Linked DNA regions of Homo sapiens. The protein of the gene in region 2 purifies or fractionates together with the protein of the main gene of each other region. This does not show direct contact. Each region holds a gene or a part of one and is shown on either strand. Other genes may lie near its edges.

Region 1 (7,140 bases), on a different chromosome or scaffold from region 2:
CCTGGCCAACAGAGTGAGATTCCATCTTAAAAAAAAAAAAATAGATGCTGTGTGGAACCAGTGGATTCAACGCAAGGGCTCTGGGTCCCGCAATCCGGTAGAGTGCACACAACCCAACAGTGAACAGGTTCGTTGCAGGGTAGAGGCCCTGGGCAGTAATCCTGTGCAGTGCACGAATGCAATGTCAGATACTGTGCAGTGGTGCTGCCTTTGCAAACCTAAGCCAGTCCTGAAGCCCAAGAAAGTGGTCCCAAGCTGTACTATAGATATAGACTCCCTGAGTCATGTGCAACGTGGGGCAGTGAGGACACTCAATGCAAAGATGTTGTTCACGTAGGGCTGACAACAAAAACCTGGAAAAGGACGCCAGCCTACAGATACCATGGTGGTAGGAGCGTGAAAGGCCAGGACACCATAGGGGCAGCGTTTCAGCAGCAGTGGTGCAGTGCAAGGGCTGGGCCATGAGGCACATATCCAGTGCAGCAAAGCAGTGCACATGCACAGAAGTGCTATATGGGGCAAAGTGCACTGTTGGTACAATGCAACTGTGGAATGCAGAGGGGCCATGCCCAGAAACTCAGGAAAAGTTCACAGTCCTGATGCAATACTGACGTCCATGCAATAGTGCAGTGCAGTACAGAGATGCTGTGTGATGCCAAGATGCAATGTTGTGGTAGCATGCCATCTGTTGGCACGGTGCAGTGCTGCAATGCGAGGAGCTATGCCCAAACCCCAAAAGAGTCCATGTGCCCAATGCAATGTAGACTGCCTGGTGAGGCAATGGGGTGCAGAATATAAATGCTCTATGACACAAACATGCAATGTGGCCACAGAAAACCATGTGTTGATCTCAGACAGTGGTGCAGTGTGAGCAGCTCCGCCCAGAAACCCAGGAGAATTCACCTTCCCAATGCAACACTGACATCCAGCAGAGTGACACAGTATACAAGAGAGCAGCAAAGACACACACATGGCAGGACCATGGCAGGATCATGGCAGGATGGAGGCACGGTCCAATGGGACAATGCAGAGGCAGAGCATGCAGAAACTCAGGAGAACGCACACCCTCAATGCAATGCAGCAATCCCAGTGAAGTAGAGGGCTGAGACACAGGGCTGTGCAAGGAGGCTGGACCCAGGAATCCCAGACAGTGCACATCCAGAGCAGTCCAGAGCCTGGCACGCTGCAACAGTGTTGCTGGGAGGGTCATGATGCCTCCCTGTGATGCACTGGAGGAGAGGGGAGCTCAGATCCCTGGAAAACTCTCTACCTACAGCTCTGCCCGGCCACGCTGGCTCACCCCACAAGTTGGGGGCCGAAATCTCATCTGGCTTGTCTCCCTCCCTCCAACATCTTCCACCCCAGTGACTCTCCAAGGGCAAAGGCTGAAGCCACTGCCACCCACAGGATAGGCCATCTAGAATCGAGCACATTGTCCAGGTATTATAACTGAGCAGAATCCCAGCATGCTGGCAGGAAAACAATGAATTCAAATTCTGCTGGTAAAGCTCTCAGACAATTAAAGTACAGCCCCTGGCCCCCAGCCCAGGGCAGGACAGAGGAGAGATAGAGAGAAAGACCTATTATTGGATAAGGCCCTGGGACAGGGTGAGCAGGAAGTAGGATGAACAAGAGGTTAGGATGTCAGAGAAGAGCCAGACTCAATCAACCTGGCTAGGCACTCCCCAACCACCACCCCCGTCCCCACCACTATTACTCCCTCCCAGGCCTGGACTTCATCAGAAACCAAGAACAAACTTTTCTGGGCACACAGGATGACCGCACGCATGCAAATACACACATCATAACAGTGATCACTTACACAGTGCTTACTATGTGCAGGACCTGTTCTAACCTACATAATCATAACCATAAAACATATCCTCATGACAAACGCATGCAGTGTGTCCTATTATTATCCCCATTCCACAAATGAGAACTCTAAGGGCCCAGAGAGGTCAGTAACTTACCAAAGTATCACACAGCTAGAAGTGGTGGGCTTAGGATTAGAACCCAGATGGTCTGGGCCCTGAACCCATGCTCTTAACCACCACACGCTAGACAAACACATATTGACAGGCATGCCCAGCCACAAGTCCACATGCACGCTCCTGTAAACACACATACATACACATTCTAAGCAATGTATTTCCCACTCTCAGCTGAGACTCACCTGTCCTATCCACTAGGTTTCTGATAGCTCCCAGTTGTCACCTCTTATCTCCACCTCTTATCTTATCACCCACATCTCCTTGTTCTATCATCCACCTGTCCCCCAACCCTCAGTTGTTCCCCCAATACCGCCTGTCCCTTCACTGTCAGCTGTCCCATCCCCCAGGTATATCTTTCCCACCAGCTATCTTCTATCCGCCAGTGGTCCCCCAGGCCTCAGCTGTCACCCACCACAGTGGACATCTGACAGTGTGCTGCGGTTTTCCGTCTCCTTTTTCCACTAGTCTGGGAGCCCCCGGGGGCTGAGCTGTCACCCCACCCCTAGCTTTAATCTTGCCCTGTCAAATATCCTCAGCATCTCCCCTTCCTAACAGCCCCATCTCAATCTTTCTCCCCAGCTTCTGCCCTCAAACTCCCAAGCCTCAGCGGCCCTCCAAGCCCCCTTTCTCCTTGTCCCTTCTGAGTCATCACAAGGTCTTGTGGTTTGCATCTTGGGAATCTGCCCAAGACCTCCTGCGTCATCTGGAAGCAGCATCTTCTGAGCTGTCCCCCTCAGGGGTCCTCCCACAGTCATTCTGCAGGAAATGGCAGCCCCCAACCCAGAGCCAGAGGAGGAGGCATAGCCAGCCCACCCATGACTGTGCTGCAGAACCCCAGCTCCTGCATTCACCCCTCCAAGCCTTCCCTGTGCACCCAGAGGCATCGAGATGCAGCCACTTAGTGGGCATCTCCCACGTATAGGCCCTGGGGACCACAGATGACAAAGACACAGCTCAGCCCCTGGGGGCTCCCAGCCTAGTGGAAAAAGGAGATGGAAAACCGCAGCACATTGTCAGACGTCCACTATGGGAGAAATTTCACCAACTGCACCGGGAGAGGGCTGGGAAGGCTTCGCTGCATCAGTGACAATGGAGCTGAACTGTGAAGGCTGAACAAGTAGGTAGATCCCCCACCCCCACCACGAGGTGAGAAGTAGGGAGGGGCACAGTGTGTGCAAAGGTAGAGAGGTGTGAACTGGCATGGCAGGCTCCTGGATCAGCAATTTGCCTGGTGATTTGGAGCAGACAGCGGATAGGCAGGAGTGGGATCAGGGAAGAAAGGCATCATGTGAAGCTGCTTCAGAAAGAAAGGGCTGGTCATGCAGGGCCTCATGTGCTATGCTAGGGTTTGGGTTTTGTCCCCTGAGTTCTGGGGAGCCTTCAGCTTGGGACAAAGGAGTGGCAGCATCCTATGTCTGCCTTAGAAGCTTATTCCAGCCACAGGGTGGTGGAAGCATTAGAAACCAAAAGCCTGGGCCGGGCCCGGGGGCTCATGCCTCTAATCCCAGTACTTTGGGAGGCCGAGTCAGGCAGGTCATGAGGTCAGGAGATGGAGACCATCCTGGCTAACACAGTGAAACCCCGTCTTTATTAAAAATACAAAAAATTAGCCGAGCGTGGTGGCACGCGCCTGTAGTCCCAGCTACTTGGGAGGCTGAGGCTGAAGAATTGCTTGAACCCAGGAGGCAGAGGTTGCAGTGAGCCAAGATGGTGCCCCTGCACTCCAGCCTGGGTGACAGAGTGAGACTCCATCTCAAAAAAAAAAAAAGAAACCGAGAGCGTGATGGCAGGCAGAGTAGAGGCCAAGAAGGCTACCAGGCTACTGCAATAGTCCAGGCAAGATCTAATAAGGCTGCAGAGAAGGGGCCTGGATTGAACAAAACCTTTTGTCAAGAGCCACTGAGTCATGGTCCATCCAGACCAATTCCCCTCCCAGAGATGCCCAGGACTCACTGAAGGTGCTGCAGGCCGCCTCATGCCTCTAGACCAGTGCTGTCTGCAGAACTTTCTGAGAGGATGGAAATGTTCTCTGCCTGCATTAACCAGTACAATGAGAGCCACTAGCAACATATGACTCTTGAGGACTTGAAATCTGACTAGTGCAACTGAGGGATTGAATTTTTATTTTAATTAATTTAAATGTAATACCCATACATGACTCAGGAGCCACCGTATTGGAGAATGCAGGTAGAGGACAATTTCCATCACCACAGAAGGTTCTATTAGATAACACAGCTCTAGGCTGACCGTTGAAAAACAGAACTATCGGGGCCCCTTCCAAGGCTTCTGGCTTTGGAGTCTGAAGAGCGATCAGGAGGCAAGTCCCAGGGAAGGGGCTACCAGAGGTTGAGTTGGGTACAGCCACCAGGACATTCCCACCCAACACGTCCACACCCCTTGTGGACACATCCTGGATACATGGACACCACCATAGGTCACAAGGGCACCTCCACATCTAAACATACAAATAGACACATGAGGCCAGGCACAGTGGCTCACACCTGTAATCCCAACACTTTGGGAGGCCGAAGCAGGTGGATCACCTGAGGTCAGGAGTTCAAGACCAGCCTGGCCAACATGGTGAAACCCCATCTCTACTAAAAATACAAAAATTAGCCAGGCATGGTGGCGGGTGCCTGTAATCCCAGCTATTCGGGAGGCTGAGGCAGGAGAATCGCTTGAACCCAGGAGGCAAAGGTTGCAGTGAGCCGAGATCATGCCATTGCACTCCAGCCTGGGTGACAAAGCGAGACTCCATCTGAATAAAAAAGAAGAAAAGGCCGTGCGCTGTGGTTCACGCCTGTAATCTCAGCACTTTGGAAGGCCAAGGCAGGCAGATCACAATGTCAGGAGTTCAAGACCAGCCTGACCAACATGACGAAACCCAGTCTCTACTAAAAATACAAAAATTAGCCAGGCATGGTGGCGTGCGCCTGTAATCCCAGCTACTTAGGAGGCTGAGGCAGGAGAATCACTTGAACCCGGGAGGCGGAGGTTGCAATGAGCCAAGATCACGCCACTGCACTCCAGCCTGGGTGACAGAGTGAGACTCCATCTCAAAAAAAAGAAGAAGAAGAAGAAGAAGAAGAAAAAAAAAAAATAGACACATGGCACCCCACACCCAGACTCACTAACAACTGGATACTTCAATGACTGGGTCCCTGTTGTTTCATACACAGATACCCCCACCCTCAGATACCCGGACACTTGGGGACCCCTACAACCAGACACTCAGGCACCTGGCCAGCCCCATACCTGGACACAACACAGAGACACTCCCCACTTATAAATACCCACTAACCTGAGGACTCCCAGACACATGGATACACCCACCTCCAGCCCCAGGGATGCTGGGATAGCCTCTGTCTGCACACCCTGATCCTCCCACATGCTGGTACTGGGTTGTCCACACCTAGATAGCGAGACACCACCCATCCAAATAGCTCTGCACCCAACTCCAGGAATGTGATACTTGGATAGCCAGACACCCTTAGCACCAGGCTCCCCAGGGGTCAAAGCAGCTGGTTACCTCCCTACTCCAAACTCAGATCCTGCCACACCACACGATAACCAGATGGCTAGACACCCTAACAGGTCACATGTGTCCATGCCCCTAGTTACAATCCCTACACACCCCCCACTCTGACTGCCCAGATGCTAGAGTCACATCTGCACACACCTCAGCCAGCCTCCCCAACCCCATCTGCCAGGGCCACCACGGGATGCAGTTCTCCTCCCTTCCCTCCGGTGCACAAGCGGTGAGAACAGAGGCTGTGACCCCACCCGCCCACCCTAGGATCTAGGACTGAGGACTAAGGGAGGGTCTTCCAGGAAGCTTCCCTCCCTCTCCTAACACAGGGCCCTGCGGGCTCCCTCCCTCCTCCCCAGCCACTCACACAGACCGTTGAGACTCAACGTCTCACCAACTGCCAGGCCCCATCACAAAAGCCTGAGACTGGGGGCTGGAAGGGCCCTGCCAGCTGCTAGGGGTGGGGCCAGAGCCTGGGGGAGGGGCTGGCAGGCAGGAGGCCCGTTCCCTTCAGTCTCTTGCCAGGGACTCAACCTCCCCAACTCAAAGCTCCCAGATGACACTCTCAACATGGCCTTTTCACAACATAACACCATCCCCCACCCTCCAGGAATTTTCCAGATTCCTGGAGGGAAACCTGGTTCTTCAATCTCTACCTTCAGTGGAATCAGTGCACCCCCATCTGGCATCTCCACCTCTGAACCTGGCCCCCTTAAACTTTATTCTTTCAGGCCATATATATTTATTCAGACCCGGTGGGCCAGGCCTTGTACCTGGCACTAAGATTCAGAAGTAAACTAAAAACCCAGTCTCTGTCCTCAGCTCTCAGTCTGGTAAGGGAGACAGCACTAATAAACTGTAATTACAATAATTACAATGCTATGTAAAAATCCAATTGACCCCCACCCCCCGACTTCCTAGGCTAGGACAGGGCATCACCGAGGAAGGCTTCAGGGACTGGATGATGCTTACAGCTGAGAGCCCATCAAGTTGCAGGAGTTCACCAGCAAAAAGCTGGAGTTAGAAAGTTCTGCAGAGAAAGCACGGCTTGCCCAAAGGCCCAGAGAGGAGACAGCAGGCTGTGGGCATTTGGGTCTTTGGTAAGAAGGTCAGGCTGGCCAGATCATAGGATGCAAGGGGCAGTGACACAAAACAAGATGCAGCTGGACAGGCAGGCAGGAGCTAGAGCCAGCAACAGGGCCAAGGGATAAGGACTTCACCCTGAAGGCAATGGGGAGCCTTCAAAGGGTTTTAAACCCTTTGAGTTAAAATGTACTTTACAAAGATCCCTGGCACCATGAGGGAAAGAGGGAAGGAGGAGGCTGGAGTCTTCCTGCAGGTGAAAGATAGCTGAGGACGGACAGAAGGAGACAGATGAAAGAGTCTCTGAGAGGGCAGACAGGACGTTCCAGGATGCAGGAGGGCAACTAGGAAAAGGGGGGAGGGGGAGGAAGGAGGAGCACAAGGTACCCCCTGCAACTCTGGCCAACCCAGTCCTGCATGGAAAGGCCACCCCATATGCCCAGCTGAGCTGATGAAAATCATGGAAGGATGGTGGCCTGTCTCCATCAAGCACGATGCTTGCCCTAGGTTTTTTCTGACACCAGAGCTGGGCAGCAG
Region 2 (7,824 bases):
CGGGGTGGCGGCCGGGCAGAGGCTGCAATCTCGGCTCTTTGGGAGGCCAAGGCAGGCGGCTGGGAGGTGGTTGTAGCGAGCCGAGATCACGCCGCTGCACTCCAGCCTGGGCACCATTGAGCACTGAGTGAACGAGACTCCATCTGCAATCCCGGCACCTCGGGAGGCCGAGGCTGGCGGATCACTCGCGGTTAGGAGCTGGAGACCAGCCCGGCCAACAGAGCGAAACCCCGTCTCCACCAAAAAAAAACGAAAACCAGTCAGGCGTGGCGGCGCGCGCCTGCAATCGCAGGCACTCGGCAGGCTGAGGCAGGAGAATCAGGCAGGGAGGTTGCAGTGAGCCGAGATGGCAGCAGTACCGTCCAGCTTTGGCTCGGCATCAGAGGGAGACCGTGGAGGGAGAGGGAGGGGGAGGGGGAGGGGGAGGGGGAGAGACCAAATTTCTTTGTATAAAAGTGTTAACCCAAGTGGAACAAAAATTAGTTGAGTACCAAGAAAATACTTTGCCAGATTTGCATGCTAAATCAGCGGATACTAAAATTGTTTAGATATACAATTTGAATGAACTCCATGGTCTAAGTCAAATTACCTATGATAACCCATCAGTTGTCAGTGCTATACAGCTAAACTGGAGAAACAACTGGTATTCAAGATGACGTAAGTCCGATGTTAAGCATGGACTCATGGAGAACCAGGACAGCAGCCTTGCCCTTCCTGAGTCCTTAAAGCTTTTGTTATTCAAGGTTATGCACTCCATGACTCATCATGGAAAAGATAAAATAATCCAAATTAAATATATATTGGTGTGCTGACTTATACATTGCTAAAGTAGTTTATAACCAATGTTTGGTTTGTCAAATCCATATTCCTGGGAAGACAATCAAATCTTCAAGTACATTTGGCTACCTCATGGGCCATTTAAACATTTCAATTGCCATTTTCAATGCATGTTTCTGGTTGTAAAAAAGCTTTCCTATGCAAGAGGGCTGATGTTATAACAGTAGATTATTATGCTACAGTGTATTTTCACCAGGTAAAGAAAGCTTTTTATGGGTCACTGAGGACAATCAACCCCTTCACAATCTAGAACCCAAAGATTGGGTCTTCTGAGAATATCTACTGTAAAGGCTATAGTTACACAACAGATTTTAAATTCTTTTGTGAAGGTTACGATAGAATCGGCTGAACAGAGAAGTATCTGTGCAGCTGCTGGCACTTGTGGCTTATGGAGAAATACATCAAATGAAGATTATAGAGATTTAGTTGTAGGGGATTAACGAAGAGATTTCTTAGTTAAGTGAGTAGATTCTTTAGCACATTCTTTGATTTAATTTTAGGTGGTTTGGTTTATGGGGATCCTTGGTATGAAGTATGCTCCAAACTCTTAGTATTATCCTCCCAGTAGTCATAATAATAGTCTCCCTGGTGCGCTGTATTATCTCAAAGGCTTTAAATGCTTGCATTCAGCCATCTCTAGAATGTCAAATGGTCTCTTTTCAAGTGGAATGACAAGAGCTGAAAGAAGTGCATGACCAGGAGGATACCATAACCTATGAATGATGTGGTGAGACTGGAAACCCAAAATGATGGCAAGTGAGTGTGGTGCTAAGGCCTTAAATTTTGGTCACACTCTCACCCAAGTGAGAACCTGACCAAAAAGGGAGAATTTTTTTAACAAAATTATGAGAGGCCAGTGTTTTGGACTGACATCATGTGCTAGGCCCCAGCAAACCAAACAAACCAAAACACATAGATCCTAAAACAGACCAGGTTTTGTTTTTCTCCTGCAAACAGGATGTTCCACCATAAGGAGGTACCCTCTACTCAGTCCTTGTTCCCACTGTACAAAACTCACTGTTGTTTTACTGTTTCCCAGTGGGTTTCAAGACCAAATAAGTTCATTTATGATGGTGGTAGTGACATGAATGACTAAAGGTTTGGTCAATCTCTCAAAATTGAGAAAATGACCAAAAGGGGGAAATTGTTAAAGCAAATTAAATATAGCCTGAGAAGGACTCCGTATTTCTATATTGGAGTCTCTGTGGATGAACGGTAACCTAACTTAGGAATATGTGCCTGTAAAAATAGCTGAGTCTTGGCCAATCCCAGCAACCCCAAATCAGGCCAGGAGATAAGGTACTTAATAAAACGTGGAAGTGCTCTGGATAATAGTGGCCATTTTTTTATTGCCTTCTTCCAAACTTATGGAATCACTTCCTTTGTAGTAATTAGCAGAATGTTTCAATTCATCTCCATAATGAACATTCCTGACAGCATAAGTATCCACCCCCTGAAGTTCCTGTTAAATCTTTTAACCATATTCATTTCCTTTCACATAGAGACCATCAAGCTTCAGATGATCATGTGACAAAGTTTCCAGTCAGTTCCAAGTGAAGACACCACCCCTGGCCATCAGGATGCCACACTGTCTCCACTAGACAGAGTAGGGCAAGAGTTCCATGATCTCCAGTAGGTAGGAACTACGCCCCAAGTTGGCATAAAGCAGTTACAGTTCCTCTGCATCCCATAAAGATTTATGGGGGTCATGTCTCTCAGGAGAGAGATGAGGCAGGAGAATAGGGTCTGGAGGCAGGAAACCTAAGGGTTCACCTGACTTCCTAGAACTAAATCAAAAGGAAAACCCCAACTTTCCGCACCTAAGTAACAAACGGACCAGAGACTACTCCCTTTGCAACCCCCACTCCCCACTTTCTGCTTGGCAGATGGAAAATCTTTTGAAAGTACCTCTGATTGCCTTTCCGCAACCAATCCTGCGTTTGCATAGAAGTGTAACTTTGTAACTTCACTTCAGCCTCTGATTGGTTGTGGAAAGCAACCAGTCAGACTGATTGCGGCCAAATATTCTTTTGCATAGGAGTGTAACTTTGTAACTTCACTTTAGCCTCTGATTGGTTGTGGAAAGTAACCGATCAGACTGATTGCGGGCCAAATCTTCTTTTGCATAGGAGTGCAACCTTTGTAACTTCACTTCAGCCTCTGATTGGTTGCTTTCCACAACCAATCAGACTAATTGTGGCACCACTTCATTTACATGGGGTGAACGCCAAGTGGCCAATGGGAAACCTCTAGGAGGTATTTGGACCCCAGAAGATTCTACAGCAGGGGCTCTTGAGCCCATATGCAGGGGCCTGCTCCCACCTTGTGGAATGCACTTTTGTTTTCAATAAATCTCTGCTTTTGTTGCTTCATTCTTTCTTTACTTGCTTTGCTTGTGCCTTTTGTCTAATTCTTTGTTCAAAATGACAAGAACAGGCCGGGTGCGGTGGCTCATGCCTATAATCCCAGCACTTTGGGAAGCTGAGGTGGGTGGATCACCTGAGGTCAGGAGTTCCAGACCAGCCCGGCCAACGTGGCGAAACCCCGTCTCTACTAAAAATAACAAAAAAAATTAGTGGGACGTGGTGGCGCACACCTGTAATCCCAGCTACTTGGGGGGCTGAGGCAGGAGAATCGCTTGAACCCAGGAGGCAGAGGTTGCAGTGAGCTGAGATCGTGCCATTGCACTCCAGCCTGGGCAACAGAGCCAGACTCTGTTTCAAAAAATAAATAAATAAATAAATAAATAAATAAATAAAGGCAAGAACCTGGACACCCTCCACCCGTAAACAGCCAAGACTGTGCCACAGCACTCCAGCCTGGGCGACTGACTGAGACTCTGTCTCAAAAAAATTAAAATAAAACAACAAAAGTATGAACCAAAAAAACCACCTCTGTGGGCTGGATGTGGCCTTGGGGGTACCAGTTTGCAGACCCTGTGTCAAGCGGCCTAGGACCCAATCTGTATCCTTTGTTAACTGTCACCGATACTGACCTCAGACCTGGACCACTGGGATCCTGCCCTGAACCCCGTGCTTTAGTTGGCCCACTCCAGCTGGAGCGTATGTTCCCTTCTAGATCATGCTCCTGGTACCCTGGACTCCGGAAATCCCTGTGTAAACAGCCCTGAGCCTGCTTCCAAGGTCTGACTTCCATCCACCCAGGGCAGCCTGCCCTGCCTGGCCTGAGTATCGTTAGAATGAAGGATGGCAGGGTAGGGGGTGTGTGTTTGCCTGAACCAGTAGACCCCCTTCAGTATGTATGGGATGGAGTCGTGTGGGAATAGAAGCAGCAAGACTACTAGCAAGGGCTCTGCATTTGTACTCTTGCCCCTGGCTAGGCAGTCGCCAGGGGTGGGCCTGCTTCTCACTGACCCGTGGGTCAGGCTGTAAATAAGAGCGACCCTCGATTCACTCTTTACCCTGGGCCAGGCAGTCCGATGCATCCTGCATCCCATCATTCCTAATACCAACTCTGAGGATGCTGACAAGCAGCAGCCCCGTTTTACAGACCGAGGCACAAAGGCTGAACTAAGTTGTCCATAGCTAGTGAGTGGCAGAGGCAGGGTTTCAATGGGACAGTCCGTGGCGGAGCACACTGGCTCCGCCGCCAGCCCCCCTGCGGTACCCATCCGCGCTCGCCGCCTGGGACCGCCAGCCCGGGGCGGGGCGCAGGCAGGGACCCTCCGCTCCCCTCTCCGTCTGCCGCCCGGACGGGCCACCGCGGGGGCGCGAGGAAGGGGTGTTGGGTCGCCAGGGCCCGCCTCCCAGCTGCCCCGGCCGCCGGGGGGCCTGGCGGTGACGGCGGCGCCTGGCGGCGGGGATTTGGCGCGGGCCGGGGGCCGGGGGCCGGGGCGCGGGGGCGCGAGGCTGGATTCCTAGGGCCGCGGCGCTTCCCGGCATGCTCCGCTGCAGGCCCGCGCCCGCGCCCGGACTTTGCCATCGGCGGGGCAGTCGCGGGATGCGCCCGGGAGCCACAGCCTGAGGTGGGTGAGCCCCGCCGGGCCGGGCGGGCCGCGGCGAGTCGGGGAAGGGGACGCGGGGGCGCGGGGCCTGGCCCGGCTGCCGGGGAGAGGGGAGGCGGGTGCCGCAGCTTTGTTCTTGCCGCGGGGCCGCGCGCCCGAAGTTGGGGAAAGGAGTAGGAGCCGCGCCCCGGAGCGCTCCGGGGCCCGTGCGGCGCGTCCCGGGCGGGCTGGGGGTCCCTCCCTCCCGGGGACAGAGTGGGCGTCCTGGGTGGACGAGCACGGGGAAGCGGGTAGGGTCTTGGGTCTGTTCTGTCCTTGTGGTTCTGGAACCGGAGGGGAAGGGGGAAAGTAAGGGAGAGAGAAAGAGACGGAGAAAAACAGGAAAACTTACTCTTCAGTACGCAGGGAAGAATAGAGAAAGAAAAACACAAAGAAACGCCACGCAGACTGCAGAGAAGGACCACGAACACACGCTCCGAGAAACACACTCAGCTCACACGCACTGAGAAGCACACTTAAGATAAACACTCAGGTCACACACACAAGCACACTAAGAAACATTCAGTTCACACACACTCAGAAACACACGCACTCAGAAGCACACAAGATAAACACTCAGCTCACACACAGAAGCACACTCAGAAACATTCAGTTCACACACACTCAGAAACACACGCACTCAGAGGCACACAAGATAAACACTCAGCTCACACACAGAAGCACACTCAAACATTCAGTTCACACACACTCAGAAACACACTCCGAGAAACAGTTCACACTCGCTCAGAAGCACACTCAGCTCACACACACAAGCACACTCGGAGAAACATTCAGCTCACACACACTCAGAAACATACTCTGAGAAACACAATCAGCTCACACCCACTCAAGCACACTCAAGATAAACAGCTCACACAAGCACATTCAGAAAACACTCAGAAACATAGCTAACACTCAGAAACACACTCTGAGAAACACAGCTCACACACTCAGAAGCACACTCTGAGAAACAGCTCACACACACAGAAACAGAAAAACAGCTCACGCACACTAACACAAACACACACGGAGAAACACACTTAGAAGCACACTCAGCTCACACACACCCAGAGAAACACGATCAGAGAAACACTCAGAACGCACAGGAAGAGAGAGGAAACCAAGTGGGTGGTCTTGGAGGCCTGGGGACCGGGGGAGGGGAAGGAGAGACACTGAGAAGCGGGAGACGGGAGCAGCAGAGGGAAAGATGCCTGGAAAGAGAAACAGAGATAAAGGCAGACATAAGAGGAGGCAGAAAACACAAAGGCCAAAAGGAGGTGGTTAAAAGGACAGTAAAGAGAAACACACACGTAGAGAAACAGAGGCGGACCCTGAGAATTACCCCCCTCCCCCACCTACCTCTCACAAAATCAGCGACACACACAGAAGAGGCAGATGCCAGCCTTCTCCTTCTTGTGGTCCAGTGAGCTCGAGATGGGAGAGCAGCTCTGTGAGCCCTTTGAGAAAGGCTTCCTTGGCACTTTAAGCCAGGCATGTCCCAACCTTGTCTACCTGGCAAACTCCTGCTCATCCTTCAAAACCCAGCTCTAGCCTCACCACTCCTGTGAAAGTGTCAGTTCCCAGAAAGTGTCATGCAAGCACAGTTACTCTCTTTTCTGTGTTCTTCTGCAGGAAGCACAGGCACATGGAGTTGAAGTGGTTTGTCACCTGTCTGCCTCTCCCACCAACTCCTTAAGATCAGGGTCTCTGTCCTATCTATCTCCAATCTCCAGTGCATGATGCATAGTAGATGATCAATAAATACTTAGTGAATGGTGACCGAGAGCGTTTGGACCCTCCGAGACATGGAGGATAGAATTAAGTGCAAATAGAGGAAAAGCACCCTCCTGGTATTCTAAGGACTCCTAAGTCAGAGTGTCTTTTTTTCACGTGGGGAAATTAAAGCCCAGAGAGGGGAGAATGCTTGCACAAAGAGAGACAAGCAGGAGGCCTACAATGAAATAACAGTGAATATGTACTTCTGTGAGATGCCCTTGTTCTTCTGGCTTATGAGTTTAAAATAGGTGTGAAAGACCCCGTTCTTCAGTTCCTCTCTCCAGAGGCAGCTACTGTTATCAAGTTACATTTTATGTGTGTTTGTGCCTATCGATGTGTTCATACTAAAAAAATTCTGTGCACTAGTATATACAAATGCACGGACTTCTTTCATTCTTCTTTTGTACACAAATAAAAGAATTCTATGAGAAAAAGAAATAGATGTGAAACAGTCTCCTGAGTGAAAACTGGCAAGAGGCAATGGACACTTTAATGCCAGTTCTAAGTTTCCAACACTGAAACTGGCAATTAGAACTCTTTCCAGAACCTTTACAGTCTTCTTTCTTCCTTAGAAAGGAAAAGTAGAGTGAATGTCCATCTCAGTGTAAGTGGATGGCTTTCCATCTCCTGACTGCATATTGGAAAAATTCTGTAACCTCCCTGAACCTCAGTTTCCTCAACTGTAAAATGGGATTACTAATATGTCCACTTCATAAGATTGTTGTTGGAAAAGTTAACAAAGAACCTGGTGCAGAGTAGATCCTCAGTAAATACAGTTTCATCTTTCCTCTCTTTAATGGGTGTTCTTTTGTGCATGTTTTTATGGCTGCGAAAACAACTGCTAGTTAAAATGTTTCCTTTTGTCTAGGGTTTAAAAAGCTATTTTAAGGCCGGGCTCGGTGTCTCACGCGTGTAATCCCAGCACTTTGGGAGGCCCGAGGTGGGTGCATTACTTGAGGTCAGGAGTTCAAGACCAGCCTGGCCAACATGGTGAAACCCCGTCTCTACTAAAAATACAAAAAATTAGCCGGGTGTGGTGTCAGGCACCTGTAATCCTAGCTACTTGGGAGGCTGAGGCAGGAGAATCGCTTGAACCCAGGAGGCAGAGGTTGCAGTGAGCTGAGATCGTGCCATTGCACTCCAGCCTGGGTGACAGAGCTAGACTCCATCTTAAAAAAACAAACAAACACAAACAAACAAACAAAAAA
Region 3 (7,140 bases), on a different chromosome or scaffold from region 2:
CCCATGTGAAAGGGATTTTCCCAGTTCAGAGCAACAGAGAAAATGGGTAATAAAAGATAATAGCAGAAGATACAGGCAGTCATGCTAGAATCCATAAAACATACCTACACATTCTTGCTGTAAAATAAATCTCAAAAAGTCCCCCCTCAACAGAATGGAGAATCCAGAAATCAAGCTGCACACCTGCAGCCATTTGATCTTTGACAAAATCAACAAAAATAAGCAATGGAGAAAGGACTCTCTATTCAATAAATGGTGCTGGGAGAGCTGGCTAGCCATATGCAGAAGAATGAAACTGGGCCCAGATCTTTCACCATATACAAAAATTAACTCAAGATGGGTAAAGATTTAAATGACCTTAAACTATAAGAATCCTAGAAGAAAACCTAGAAAACACCATTGTGGGCATCACCCTTGGGAAAGAATTTATGACTATGTCCCCACAAGCAATTGCAACAAAAACAAAAATTGAAAAGTGGGAGCTAATTAAACTAAAGAGCTTCTGCACAGAAAACAAAAACAAAAACTACCAACAGAGTAAACAGACAACCTACAGAATGTGAGAAAATATTCACAAACTATGCATCTGATAAAGGTCTAATATCCAGAATCTATAAGGAATTTAAATAAATTGAACATGTAAAAAACAACCCCATTAAAAAGTCGGCAAAGGACATGAACACACACTTCTCAAAAGATATACAAGTGGTCAACAAACATGAAGAAATGCTCCATATCAGTAATCATAAGAGAAATGCAAATCAAAACCACAATGAGAGGCCATCTCACACCAGTCAGAATGGCTATTACTAAAAAGTCAAAAAGAAAAAAAAAAAAAAGATGTTGGAGAGGCTGTGGAGAAAAGGGAACACTTATATGCTGCTGGTAAAAATGGAAATTAGTTCAGCCACTGTGGAAAGCAATTTGGAGAGTTCTCAAAGAACGTAGAGTATTATTTAACCCAGCAATCCCATTACTGGGTATATACTCAAAGGAAAATAAATCATTGTATGCAAAAGACACATGCACTCTGATCTTTATTGCAGCACCATTCACAATAGCGAATACATGGAATCAACCTAGGTACTCATCAGTGGTACATGGGATAAACAAAATGTGGTATACATGCACCAGGGAATACTATGCAGCCATAAAAAAGAAGAAACTTTTATCCTTTGCAGCAACATGAATGCAGCTGGAGGCAATAATCCTAAGCAAATAAATGGCAGGACAGAAAACCATACACCATATGTTCTCATTTATAAGTGGGAGCTAAACGCTGGGTACTCATAGACATAAAAATGGCAACAACAGAAAGTGGGGACTATTAGAGAGGGGAGGGAGGGAGAAGGAAAAGGATTGAAAAACTACTAGTTATTATGCCCAGTACCTGGGTGATGGGATCAATCATAACCTGAAAACCTCAGCATTACACAATATACTCAGGTAACAAACCTTCACATGTACTCCATGAATCTAAACTAAAAGTTGAAAAAACAGTCCCTCTTCAAAATGATAAACAAAAATAAGGTAAGAATGGCAGAAAATTAAAAAAAAAAAAACAAAGTTAAAGTTAAATAAGTATTCTTAAGATAGTATAAAATGTAATACAAATATTAAAATATCTAATAATAATCACTTAGATCAAAATGAGCAGATAATAGTGTAATATGCTGTCATATATGAATCTGTAAGGTAACTAAGCTCATAAAAAATTACTTCAAAATCGATTTTTTGAGTGGGAAAACGAGTCAGAAAGTAGAGTCAGAGTGGCAATAACAAAAGTTACTGTTTCTGTAGAAATTTCTATTTAAAATGTATATGTCAAAAGGCACATATCAAGTTTGTAGCTGTAAACTAAAATTAATTCAATAATCAAAACTGGCCAAGGACTTCATTTTCTTTCCTTTAACCCCATACATTCAGTCACTTCTACTCCCCCTCCTTCACCTTCACTCTTCACTTTGCAAATTTGCTAAAAGAAAGGTTCACAATTGTCAATGATTAAGAAAAGGAACTCAAGAACGCATGCGTAAATTTAAGTACCACCATGCCAACAGAGCAACTTTTAGCTGCTGAGGGCCTCATGCTTATTCTCGAAAGCTTATTTAGGGCTAGTTCTGATCATGACTCGTTATCACTGTATCTGCCACTGAAATGTGACAATATTTTCTGATAAATCTACGATGTTATATTCAACTTGTGCTCTGAAGATAATAAGAAAATGTCAGCATTTCACACGCTGAGGGAAATAGAGGCGTAAAGGAGGAAGGAAGTAGTAATGCCCATGACATTTCTCCTCTTAGAAAGATACTACTTTATTCTTGATTGTAAGAGAAATACAGTTCAAATATTTTAAATACTTAAATTTGGTCATAGTAGAATACAAACAGGACATAAAAGTTTCCAAATTACTAGAGAAAAAGAAAAAAACTCATCACTATAACTAGAAGAAAAGTGAAAAGGAAACTACTGGAAAGTAATAACAAAAATATTAAAAAAGGTTATAAAACAGACTTTAGACACATCCAAAATACATCCAAAATGTTAATAATGGTCACCTCAAGATTTTGGTATATAATATAACTTTTCTGTTTTTCCCCCTAAATTTATTACAAAGAATATGGATTACTTTTGAAATAAAAGAATTATACTAAAAACTATTTCAGACAAAACTAAAAGCAACTATCTGTCTTCAAGCGTACGATTCCTCAACCCGTGTATTTCAAAAAACCATGTGAATCAAACTTACTGGTTCATAAACTAAACCATCTGCAGATGCAACCATTGTTTCTGCTAAATCCAATACATCCGCTCCAACATCTGCATAGAAAAAAGAATTAGAAGTTTTACATTCTATGCTTGGAGGCAAACCATCCCCAATATAAACAAATTAAGCCAACTAACAGAAAACTCACCAAGCAAAAAAAAAAAAAAAACCTCACCAACTATGTAGAATAATTTCCGATATATTTGTCCAAAAGCTAAAACAGTAGCCTTATATAGCTTAGGTGGAGATTATTCCAAAATGTAATAATGTTTTTTCTTACCCAGTAAAAAACTTCTTACCCAATAAAAAAAAAAAGATAATTCAAGATCTCATTTAAAAAGGATAAGCGTCACTGAATTGAAGAGCTTTGCAAATATCGGCAAGAACCTAATCACAAGTACTAAGTGGCTGCTGAACAAAATATTAATTCCAAGAAATATTTTTAGAGATTAAAAGAAATCGTAAAGCTATGCTACAAATCAACAAATAGGAAATTTTATTCGGAAAAGGCTAAAATTTAACAGTATTTAAACATCCAAAATAAGGCAGAATATCATATATTCAGAATTACCACTAACTACAAGTTTAAAAATAAAGTATTTTTTTATCTCTTAAAACCACCAACATAAGGAAAAACATATTGAAAAGAAAGAGATTCAAGGTCGTTCTGAGATAGAATCTCACAGAAAATAACCTCTAATTAATTGGGTAAAATTATTTCATACTTTTAAAAATGTAAAAATTTTCTCTGAGTTCTTGGTCTGTAATTTTTAAGCAGTAACTCATAAAATATTTTTCATGCAAAAGCATTCTTATTTTTGAAAACAGTATTGATTCAAACATTCACTATCTGGCATATTAGCATTTTTCCACTTCTATTAGTATAACCAAGTGAGTCCAGTGACGAAAAAAGAAAAGGGTAACCTATCACCATTAACTTAAAATAACTGGATCTGTATTTTTAAACGCAAGAGTAAACATAAAAGGTGGTAAACTGAAACAGTGACACAAGGATATGCTTGTGAAACATGGGTATAAAAGCTAGTACTCCAAACAAAAAAAGACAGAAAGGATGTACATAAACTAGAATGCTGATTCACAAACATTTCCTCCAACTTTCTTTTAATTATACTAATGTGAAAGTTTTATCTCTTCTCTTTATGGAAAAGAAACTTGAAGAATATAAGCTGAGGAGTAAAACAATTTGTATTATTAAATAATACCACAGTAAAACTTTAAAATATTATAAAGGAAAAATAAAGTACAACCAGTGATTTTTATTTTTGCTTGGCAATTGTTTGAACCATAACCTACATGTGGATTCAGCAAGTTGAAGGTGTACTTACATTGACACTTCATGGCAACAGTAATATCTATATTAATTCTTAATTTGCTGAAAGACAAAATATTAAACATTAGTACCTACCAATTAATTAGCAAAACATGAGAAATATAAATCAACTGACCTATTAAAAACTTGGATTTCAAGCAGAATAAATTATGTCGATTAGAACTTGAATTGCATTTCTCATGGCCAAAACAAAGGCTCTTTAAATTACAAGTTCTATTTTGCCCTTATTCCAAAAGCCTTTCTGACTTCACAGGTTTTTGAACACAGTATCCTTTAATAATGGCAACTCTATAATCAATAACTCTAAGCAACTCAGAAAAAGTCTTAACCTCTTAATCTCTATTTACATAAACTTTTGATAGAATGTTCTTTTAAGAATGTAAAACTCTCAAAATCAAGAATTAGGAATTGTCTTTCTTCTCTGTTTATCAAACACCATATATTAAGCATGATGCTAGATGTTCTACAAATATTATCTCCTTTATTCTATATCATGGAGCTATAAATGGATGGCTTCACAGATTTTCAAGTAAACCACTGGTGTTCACGGTAGTGTAAATACCTGGCTTAAGATCACATCACCATTAAAGTGGCATACTGGAAACTAGGTCTATGTAACTCAGGATAAATGCAACCAAACTACCAAAAGTAAATCACCTGATGCTTAAAATTTTTCATGGCCTTTCATTTTCAAATGATTAGATCAAAGCAATTTTCGAATACCAGAATGAAGCATTGCGAATAATAGACTGGCTATGATCAAATTCAGTCCTGTGCTTTCTATGATAACTTTTTTCTGTGTAATAATTTTCATCTGATTTAAAATAGGAATTACAGATTTTTAGACCTTCATGAAGTCTTAAAGTCATCTAGAGTTCAAACTGTGTTCCAAATAACCCAGGAGTTTAGGCTCAGGAGATAGGAACCAGGAGTAGGCCAAGTAGACAAACTTCTGCATATCCTCACCATGCTTATGTGGCGAACTATGTAATACATAAGACTTCATTTGGAAAAAAATGAAGTATTGCATTGGTGCTGAAAACAACAACAAATTCTTTGAAAACCAATACTATCCTGAATAGTACATTAGAGATGAAGAAACTGAAGTCCAAAAGAAGTCAGTGGTGTGACCTGCCCAAGGTTACACAGCAATTTACAAATGTTGACTAATTTAATTCTCATAAACCTCTTGAGGAAGATACTATAATTGCTGTCTGTACTTTACAAAAAAGGAAACTGAAGCATATACAGGTGCAGATTTAGTAAATTCCCTAAAATTATGTAAATGGCAAACCTGGATTGTAATTGAAAACTAAATGTGTCTTCCTATTTGGTGCAATCTTAATATTATAAACCTATTATCTTCATTCCATTGAAGAAATCCAAATAATACAAACGAATAGATGTAAAGTGTATAATTAAGGTACTATATTTTCAAAAGTTTAAAAGTAATCTTATTTACATAAAGATTTAGCTTAGGTATAATTTATAGACATCAAGTCATAAGGGTATACAATGTATCCTTAGACAACTTATTTTCCAGCTCACACAGATCAGTGAGGTATTTCAACCAGTTTCAAATATTAAACAATTTCCACAATATACATATCTAAGGAAAAATATTCCCCTAACTTTTTGAAACAAAGCATGCTAAATCAAAGAACCTCAGTTTTAGAATTCAACCACTATTTAAATGATTCTAAAAGGTTTCACTTAATGCATGCAATTAATGAGAATTTTTCAGGACTATTTCTTCAGAACTAAAACAAACCAAATCTAGAAGGTTAGACTTTTTCTTTTTTAAAAGGTATGCTCTTTTTAAAACAATTTGAATCTAAAGGTATTCCAAGAAGAAAAAAAATGATTACCTAGAAAAATCCTTGTCTACTTCGTATTCATACTTCATCCATGTATCTTGATATACTGAGAATTCCATTATGGTTAATAAAGCCATAGTTGTAAATGCTATTAGAGAAACTGGGAAATCCAACAACAAAAGAAAAACAGAATTAAAACAATAAAAAAAGCAAAGAATAGGAAACTAATTTAAGTGAGATTAAATTTTCAAAAGAAAAAGCCTAATAATGTAACTTCCATTTGAATGCATACTATAGAAGGTTTTTATTCAAAATGTTTATTATGCATTTTTTCTAATACAGCTCAAAAGTTAAGGTTTAATATATACAAATATGAACATAAACACTTGCATTACTAAGAAAGCATTTTATTTCTCCAATTTTAAGGGCATCTCTCACTAAGTAGAGTTGACAAAATTTGTATTTCTTATATAAAACAGTGTCACAGATAGGATAAATGATGAAAGTAAGCATGCCTTATAGCACAAATTTGAAAACAGTTGCTTCATTATTAAAAATGCATCCATGTCTATAAATATAATTTGTATATAAATGTATATAAATTGGGCTATAAGCCCAATTTAAAACAAACAAAAAGGTAGCCTAATTTCTTAGATCCTGAGAAACCACAATAATCTGTGTGCCAGAAACTCAAATAACATCTCTAAATAGCTAACAAAACTCTCCTCTACTTGGCAATCTCCTAAATATATCACCTCATTCACAGAACTGAGTAAAAGATCTGACAAAAAGAAAATCTATTATATACTAAAGCAAAATACTTAAAATAGATTTTGCAAGAACTTGCACTATTTTCATTAACAAAACTTAATCACAAGTGGATCAGAAATAGTAAGCAACTTATTACCCATTTTACCAAATAAAATGTCAACCTTAAGTGAAATACATTATTTTACTACCTTTTCATAGGGAAAGAAATTATACTGAATATTGTTATAGTCACACATTTTTCTTATATATTTCATTATTTATTTTACTTAACTGATACTTTTATCTGTACCAGGCACTGGGTCTAAGCATTTTATGAAAATATTAATAGTATAGTAACCCCTAGGAGGTAAATACTAGTATGATCCCTATTTCATGGAAGAAACTAAGACAGATAGATTTGAATAACTTCCTCAAGGTCACATATTTAGGAA

What was found.
Region 1: the proteins of TMEM98 (region 2) and PTPRU purify together in Homo sapiens (co-immunoprecipitation; 2 studies listed by BioGRID and IntAct, with this or other methods). This does not show direct contact.
Region 3: the proteins of TMEM98 (region 2) and ERGIC2 purify together in Homo sapiens (co-immunoprecipitation; 2 studies listed by BioGRID and IntAct, with this or other methods). This does not show direct contact.

The regions. Positions count from the first base shown.
Region 1 is NC_000001.11:29,239,522-29,246,661, reverse strand, and holds part of PTPRU (receptor-type tyrosine-protein phosphatase U isoform 1 precursor), read right to left. Parts: intron 1-7,140.
Region 2 is NC_000017.11:32,923,416-32,931,239, forward strand, and holds the start of TMEM98 (transmembrane protein 98), read left to right. Parts: upstream 1-4,737; 5' UTR 4,738-4,822; intron 4,823-7,484; exon of another isoform or gene 7,485-7,556; intron 7,557-7,824. UniProt on the Homo sapiens protein: Functions as a negative regulator of MYRF in oligodendrocyte differentiation and myelination. Interacts with the C-terminal of MYRF inhibiting MYRF self-cleavage and N-fragment nuclear translocation.
Region 3 is NC_000012.12:29,364,125-29,371,264, forward strand, and holds part of ERGIC2 (endoplasmic reticulum-Golgi intermediate compartment protein 2), read right to left. Parts: intron 6,099-7,140; coding exon 5,990-6,098; intron 4,164-5,989; coding exon 4,117-4,163; intron 2,824-4,116; coding exon 2,753-2,823; intron 1-2,752. UniProt on the Homo sapiens protein: Possible role in transport between endoplasmic reticulum and Golgi.